2 linked regions of the Homo sapiens genome follow. The protein of the gene in region 1 binds, or shares a complex with, the protein of each later gene. Each region holds a gene or a part of one and is shown on either strand. Other genes may lie near its edges. The genes, in order: TUBG2 and TUBGCP6.

Region 1 (2,926 bases):
TATATATATATATTATATATATTTATACTTTTTTATTTATATTTTTTACAGAGATGGCATCTTGCTGTGTTGCTCAGGCTGGTGTCCAACTCCTGGCCTCGAGTGGTCCTCCCACCTTGGCCTTGGGATTACAGGCCTGAGCCACCATGCCCAGCAGTACTTTTATTTTATTTTATTTATTTTATTTTATTATTTTATTTTATTTTTGAGACGGAGTCTTGCTCTGTCCCCCAGGCTGGAGTGCAGTGGCATGATCTTGGCTAACTGCAAACTCCGCCTCCCGGGTTCATGCCATTCTCCTGCCTCAGCCTCCGAATTAGCTGGGACTACAGGCGCCCGCCAACATGCCTGGCTAATTTTTTGTATTTTTAGTAGAGACGGGGTTTCACCGTGTTAGCCAAGATGGTCTCGATCTCCTGACCTTGTGATCCGCCCGTCTCGGCCTCCCAAAGTGCTGGGATTACAGACATGAGCCACCGCGCCCGGCCTCAGTACTTTTTTTTTTTAAACTAACAAACCTACTTCCTGGCTTTGGAGTTCAGCAGGGGCTAAGCCAATATCTTATTTCTATGCCCATTTTATCCTCAAGATGCTGTGATGCTCTTCTGTCCCCCCAGGTGGTGCTGGACAACACAGCCCTGAACCGGATTGCCACAGACCGCCTGCACATCCAGAACCCGTCCTTCTCCCAGATCAACCAGCTGGTGGGCCCCCACTCCCGGACTCCTTTGGACTGGAAGCCCTCCTTGCTGGAGGGTCATCTGGGGAAGGAAGGTCCCACCCAGGCCGAGCCCCATGACATGGCACGCCTGTCCCCAGGTGTCCACCATCATGTCGGCCAGCACCACCACCCTGCGCTACCCCGGCTACATGAACAATGACCTCATCGGCCTCATCGCCTCGCTCATTCCCACCCCACGGCTCCACTTCCTCATGACCGGCTACACCCCGCTCACTACAGACCAGTCAGTAAGAGCAGCCTTCAGTGTCCCAGGCCAGGCTGGCCCTGGGCCCAGCAGGCCCTGCCCCAGCCTTTCTCTCTTCCCCACTGCCCCAGGAGCTGCCCTTTGCAGGCCCCAAGGCACTGCGCTCAGGGACTGGCACAGAGCGGGCGACTTTCTTGCTGACTTTCTCTCCACCCTCCCTCTGCCTTTGGCTTCTGCCAAAGAGAAGCCAAAGGGACTGTGCCCTGAGCGCTGGCCGGGTCCCTGTCTCACTGTCCCATCAGGTGGCCAGCGTGAGGAAGACCACGGTCCTGGATGTCATGAGGCGGCTGCTGCAGCCCAAGAACGTGATGGTGTCCACAGGCCGAGACCGCCAGACCAACCACTGCTACATCGCCATCCTCAACATCATCCAGGGAGAGGTGGACCCCACCCAGGTAGGGGAGGCCCCTTCATCCCGCGCCCTGGACCTGCAGGGGTAGAGGAGAGGCCACCTCCACTGCTCCTATGCCCACCCCAGGTCCACAAGAGCCTGCAGAGGATCCGGGAACGGAAGTTGGCCAACTTCATCCCGTGGGGCCCCGCCAGCATCCAGGTGGCCCTGTCGAGGAAGTCTCCCTACCTGCCCTCGGCCCACCGGGTCAGCGGGCTCATGATGGCCAACCACACCAGCATCTCCTCGGTGAGTCTAGGTTTCTATTCTTCTTAGAAGAGTCTGTTCCACTGGCCACCTTCATCATCTTCCCCAAGTTCACTCCTAACCCCCTGGCTCGCATTTTGGAGATTTTCATCTCTTTCAGCTCTTTGAAAGTTCCTGCCAGCAGTTTGACAAGCTGCGGAAGCGGGATGCCTTCCTCGAGCAGTTCCGTAAGGAGGACATGTTCAAGGACAACTTTGATGAGATGGACAGGTCTAGGGAGGTTGTTCAGGAGCTCATTGATGAGTACCATGCGGCCACCCAGCCAGACTACATTTCCTGGGGCACCCAGGAGCAGTGATTTCCCTCCCCACTACTCCTTCTCCTTCTAGATGGTAACCACAGCCTCGACCATGCCTGCTCCCTCTGACCCAGCTTCACCTCATGGACAACCCTTCTTGGTTCATCTCCAGCCCGTGAGCTGGTCCTGCTTCCTCCCTTCCATGCCCTAACTTTTAATATGCTTGTTCAGCTCTAATAAAGTAATAAAGCTTGGTTGTCAGTATAGCCAGGGCTTGATCTGTGAATACGGGGGGGTGGTGAAGGGGTCCAGTTTCTAGGCATCTGACAGTAGGGTGGCCTTCACCTCCTCCAACGTCTTATCACTTAGTCCAAATCTTAGTGTGTTCACTGTTTCCATTGGCATCCCTCACCTTGAACTAGGCTGTTTAGTATTACTAGAGTCAGCCCTTGTCTCAAGATTACAGAGCTTTACTGAGGTTTGCTGTCTCCTCAGCGCCTAAGCTTTGCCCCAGTGAGGGTCAATGTTGCCCCAACCTCTTCCACTCAGGGCAGAGGAGGTGGGGTCTACTGAAGGAGGGCACACTACATTCTGAGCAGGCCAGGAGAGCCAAGGTTCCAGATTCCCAGTGCCCAGGGCCATGAGAGTTCCAGGAACTCAATCCAGTTCAACCCAACCTGATAAGTAGAAACAGAATTCAAGAGTAGGGCTGAGCACATCCTGAGTTACTTTTCTGTGCCAGAGAAATTCGTGGGTTTGTTATCTGCCCCAAGCTTCTCTCCATTCTAGGCCCAAAGCATTAGGCACACCAATGATGGGCCCAGAGGTGGACAACGAGTAAGAAATGGGCAGTGCCAGATCTGATGACTCACTGCCCTCCAGCCTCAGGGATTCCAGGAGGCCATCTGTATGCCACTCAGTGGAGAAGGGAGGGTGAGTAACTGCCAGCTTCCAATGAGGCCTGTTTGCCTGCTCCACCCACAAACCTGTGGCAGCACACTGGCCAGGAGGAGGTTAAGTCTGGAAGGTCAAGGAGGGGGAGGG
Region 2 (3,814 bases), on another chromosome or scaffold:
AAATACAAAAAATTAGCCAGGCGTGGTGGCGGGTGCCTGTGGTCCCAGCTACTGGGGAGGCTGAGGCAGGAGAATGGCGTGAACCCGGGAGGCGGAGTTTGCAGTGAGCGGATATTGCGCCACTGCACTCCAGCCTGGGTGACAGAGCGAGACTCCGTCTCAAAAAAAAAAACAAAAAAAAAAACTGGCCCTACAAGTTATTGCTTTATTCTGTACATGTCTGCTAATAGTATTTTTTTCTGTTTTTTTTTTGTATTTATTTATTTATTGAGGCGGAGTCTTGTTCTGTTGCCCAGGCTGGAGTGCAGTGGCACCATCTCCAGCTCACTGCAACCTCCGCCTCCCGGGTTCAAGTAATTCTCCCTGTCTCAGCCTCCTGAGTAGCTGGGATTACAGGCACCTGCCACCATGCCCAGCTAATTTTTGTAAAAACTCAGAACCTTCCAACACCAGGTTCCCTTCACCTGGAACATTCTTCAGCTCACCATAATTAGGCAACTCCTTTCATCCTAAACAAACTAGGTCCCCCAAACTCTCCCTCATAAGTCTGTCTGTCTGTCTCTCTCTCTCTCTCTCTCTTTTCTTTTTCTTTCTTTGTCCTTGTTGCCCAGGCTGGAGTGCAATGGCGCAATCTTGGCTCACTGCAACCTCTGCCTCCTGGGTTCAAGCGATTCTCCTGCCTCAGCTTCCCAAGTAGCTGGGATTACAGTGGGATTACAGGCATGGGACACCACGCCTGGCTAATTTTGTGTTTTTAGTAGAGATGGTGTTTCTCCATGTTGGTCAGGCTGGTCTTGAACTCCCACCGTCAGGTGATCCACCCGCCTCGGCCTCCCAAAGTGCTGGGATTACAGGCATGAGCCACCGTGCTGGCTGTATTTCATTTATTAACTCCCCCTTTTCTAGGTTCATTTTTTCGGGTTGCTGATGAGGAGACATGGTCACTCACTCTCCTCATCACCCTGTTCTGAATACGCTGGAGACTGCGGAGCTCCCGCACGGTGGGGCCCGGCGGTGGTTCCTAGGCTGCGGAGCTCCGGCACGGTGGGGCCTGGCGGTGGTTCCTATAGGGAGGTGCTGCTGTGTGCCTGGCAGTGTGCTGAGCACAGCCTGGGCAGCTCCTGTAGGGACTTTCTCTGCCCAGGGCCCTGCAGAGTGAAAGTGCTGTGGTCATCTCAGTGTCCAGTGGCTGACCTGCACAGGGCCACACAGTGGCTGGACCTGAGTTTACGTCTCCTGGGCCCCTCTACTCCCTGATCCCACGGCCCCTGACACTGCAGTCGGGTCAGCCTGATGCTGTGGTTCAAGTTCCTTTGGCAAATCGTTTGGTCTTGTTTCATTTTAAATCCCAGCCACCTGCTAGTTTCCTGCTGTGATGAGCTCTGACCAGCAGGTGGCTAAAGAAACTGCCGCCTAGCCAGAAATTGAGCCTTCTCCACTCTCCAAGACATCAACCCTGCTTTCCCACAGGTCCCAAGACCCCACGGGGGGCCACTCGCCCCTGCTGTTGCCCACCCTGAGAACCACCATTGTCCGACTGCTCACGGCCCTCCCTGCTGCTGAGCTGCAAGGGCTGGGTTAAGGCGGAGGGAGGCCTTTCAGACCCTGGAATGGTCTCTTTCTCTGCATGTGCCACCCATCTGGGGGAAGCATTTTGCTACATTTTGGGTTGTGTTCTCTCTGGGGACCTGTTGGGGCGGGGGGTGTTCACTCCAGAGCCTGCAGGATCCTGCGCTGTGTCTTTGTGTTTCCGCTGTGGGCTTTTTTTCCCTCAGTTCTGAGTCACCAAGAGGGGTGTGCAGCCATGGCAGTGCTGGGGGCCAGTCCTGGAGGAGATGGGGTGGAAGTGGCTGCAGGGGGAAACAGGGTTGTGCCCACAGCCTGCACCCCTGCCGAGGCCATCTGCAGGAAGAAATGCAGGGGGCAGACAGAGGCTCTGAGAGGCTGTGTCTTTCTCATGCTCATCTCATCCTGAGGGAGCCTGGGCAGGCGTCTGGGGTCCAGAGCGGCCCCACCTGCTGACTGGACATCTCAGGGCTGGTCTCCTTCCTCCTGCCCCCTCCAGCCCACCCTCTTCATAGCAGAGGTGGCCAGTAAAAGTGTGTTTCTTGGAGCTGATTGTTTTCGCAGGGAGGACGGGGGTGTGAGTGTGTGTAGTGCCAGTACATGTGGTTTCACAGCCTCAGCACCAGCAGAAGGCAAATTTCCTCAGAGTTGCATGTGCCCAGGGCTGCCTGTACCAGCCCACCTTACCTGTTACTGTCTTAAAAATTTGTGAACTTAGCCAGGTGCAGTGGCTCACGCCTGTAATCCCAGCACTTTGGGAGGCTGAGGTGGGCGGATCACGAGGTCAAGAGATCGAGACCATCCTGGCTAACACGGTGAAACCCCATCTCTGCTAAAAATACAAAAAATTAGCCAGGCATGGTGGCCCGTGCCTGTAGTCCCAGCTACTCGGGAGGCTGAGGCAGGAGAATGGTGTGAACCCAGCAGGCAGAGGTTGCAATGGGCCAAGATCGTGCCACTGCACTCCAGCCTGGGTGACAGAGCGAGACTCCGTCTCAAAAAAAAAAATTGTGAATTTTTTTTTCTGTATCCATCTCTTACGGTTTTTCTGAGGTGGGGCAGTAAAATTTATATAATGTTTTTACCGTCTTAACCAGTTGTACAGCTTTGTAATGCTGTGTGTATTTTCACTGCTGCACAGCAAGTCTGCAGGAAACTCTGAACCCATTAAACAGCTCCCCATTCACTCCACTTTTTTTTTTTTTTTTTCCGAGATGGAGTCTTGCTCTGTTGCTCAAGCTGGAGTGCAGTGGCACGATCTTGGCTCACTGCAACCTCCACCTCCCGGGTTCAAGCCATTCTCCTGCCTTAGCCTCCTGAGCAGCTGGGATTACAGATGCCCGCCACCACGCCCAGCTAATTTTTGTGTTTTTAGTAGAGTCAGGGTTTCACCATGTTGGCCAGGCTGGTCTTGAACTCCTGACCTCGTGATCTGCCTTTCTTGGCCTCCCAAAGTGTTGGGATTATAGGCATGAGCCACCGCACCTGGCCTCCACTTTCTGTCTCTAGGATTTTGGCCACTGTAGGGACCTCATGTAAGTGGAGTTGCACAGTGTTTTGTGATGGCTCATTTTACTCCACTTGGCGTCCTCGAGCGCCGTCCCTGTGGAGACAGTGTTTTGTGATGGCTCATTGCACTCCACACGGCGTCCTTGAGTGCCGTGCCTTCTGGAGCACGTGTCTGAGCTGCCTTCCTTTTTAAGGCTGAATGATGGGCAGGGGTCTGCACGGACGGTCTGTGTTTATCCTCCTCTGTTGGGGGCTCAGGCTCCTCTCCCCCTGGCTGTTGTGGATGTTGTTGCCGTGGACGGGGGTGTGGATGCTGCTGTGGACAGGCATGTGGATGTTGCCGTGGACAGGCATGTGGATAGGCATGTGGATGTTGCCGTGGACAGGGATGTGGATGCTGCCATGGACAGGAGTGTGGATGATGCTGCCGTGGACAGGGATGTGGATGATGCTGCCGTGAATAGGGGTGTAGATGCTGCCATGGACTGGGGTGTGGATGCTGCCATGGACACGGGTGTGGATGATGCTGCAGTGGATAGGGTTGTGGATGATGTTCCCATGGACAGGGGTGTGGATACTGCTGTGGACAGGGGTGTGGCTGATGCTGCCGTGGACAGGGGGTGGATGCTGCCGTGGATAGGGGTGTGGATGATGCTGCGGTGGACCTGGGTGTGGATGCTGCCATGGACGGGAGTGTGGGCGATGCTGCCGTGGACCTGGGTGTGGATGCTGCTGTGGA

What was found.
Region 2: TUBG2 (region 1) and TUBGCP6 share a complex: the UniProt entries of both Homo sapiens proteins name them as parts of the gamma-tubulin ring complex.

What each region holds. Positions count from the first base shown.
Region 1 is NC_000017.11:42,664,859-42,667,784, forward strand, and holds the end of TUBG2 (tubulin gamma-2 chain), read left to right. Parts: intron 1-617; coding exon 618-704; intron 705-819; coding exon 820-969; intron 970-1,228; coding exon 1,229-1,381; intron 1,382-1,464; coding exon 1,465-1,626; intron 1,627-1,744; coding exon 1,745-1,942; 3' UTR 1,943-2,148; downstream 2,149-2,926. UniProt on the Homo sapiens protein: Tubulin is the major constituent of microtubules, protein filaments consisting of alpha- and beta-tubulin heterodimers. Gamma-tubulin is a key component of the gamma-tubulin ring complex (gTuRC) which mediates microtubule nucleation.
Region 2 is NC_000022.11:50,234,903-50,238,716, reverse strand, and holds part of TUBGCP6 (gamma-tubulin complex component 6), read left to right. Parts: intron 1-3,814. UniProt on the Homo sapiens protein: Component of the gamma-tubulin ring complex (gTuRC) which mediates microtubule nucleation.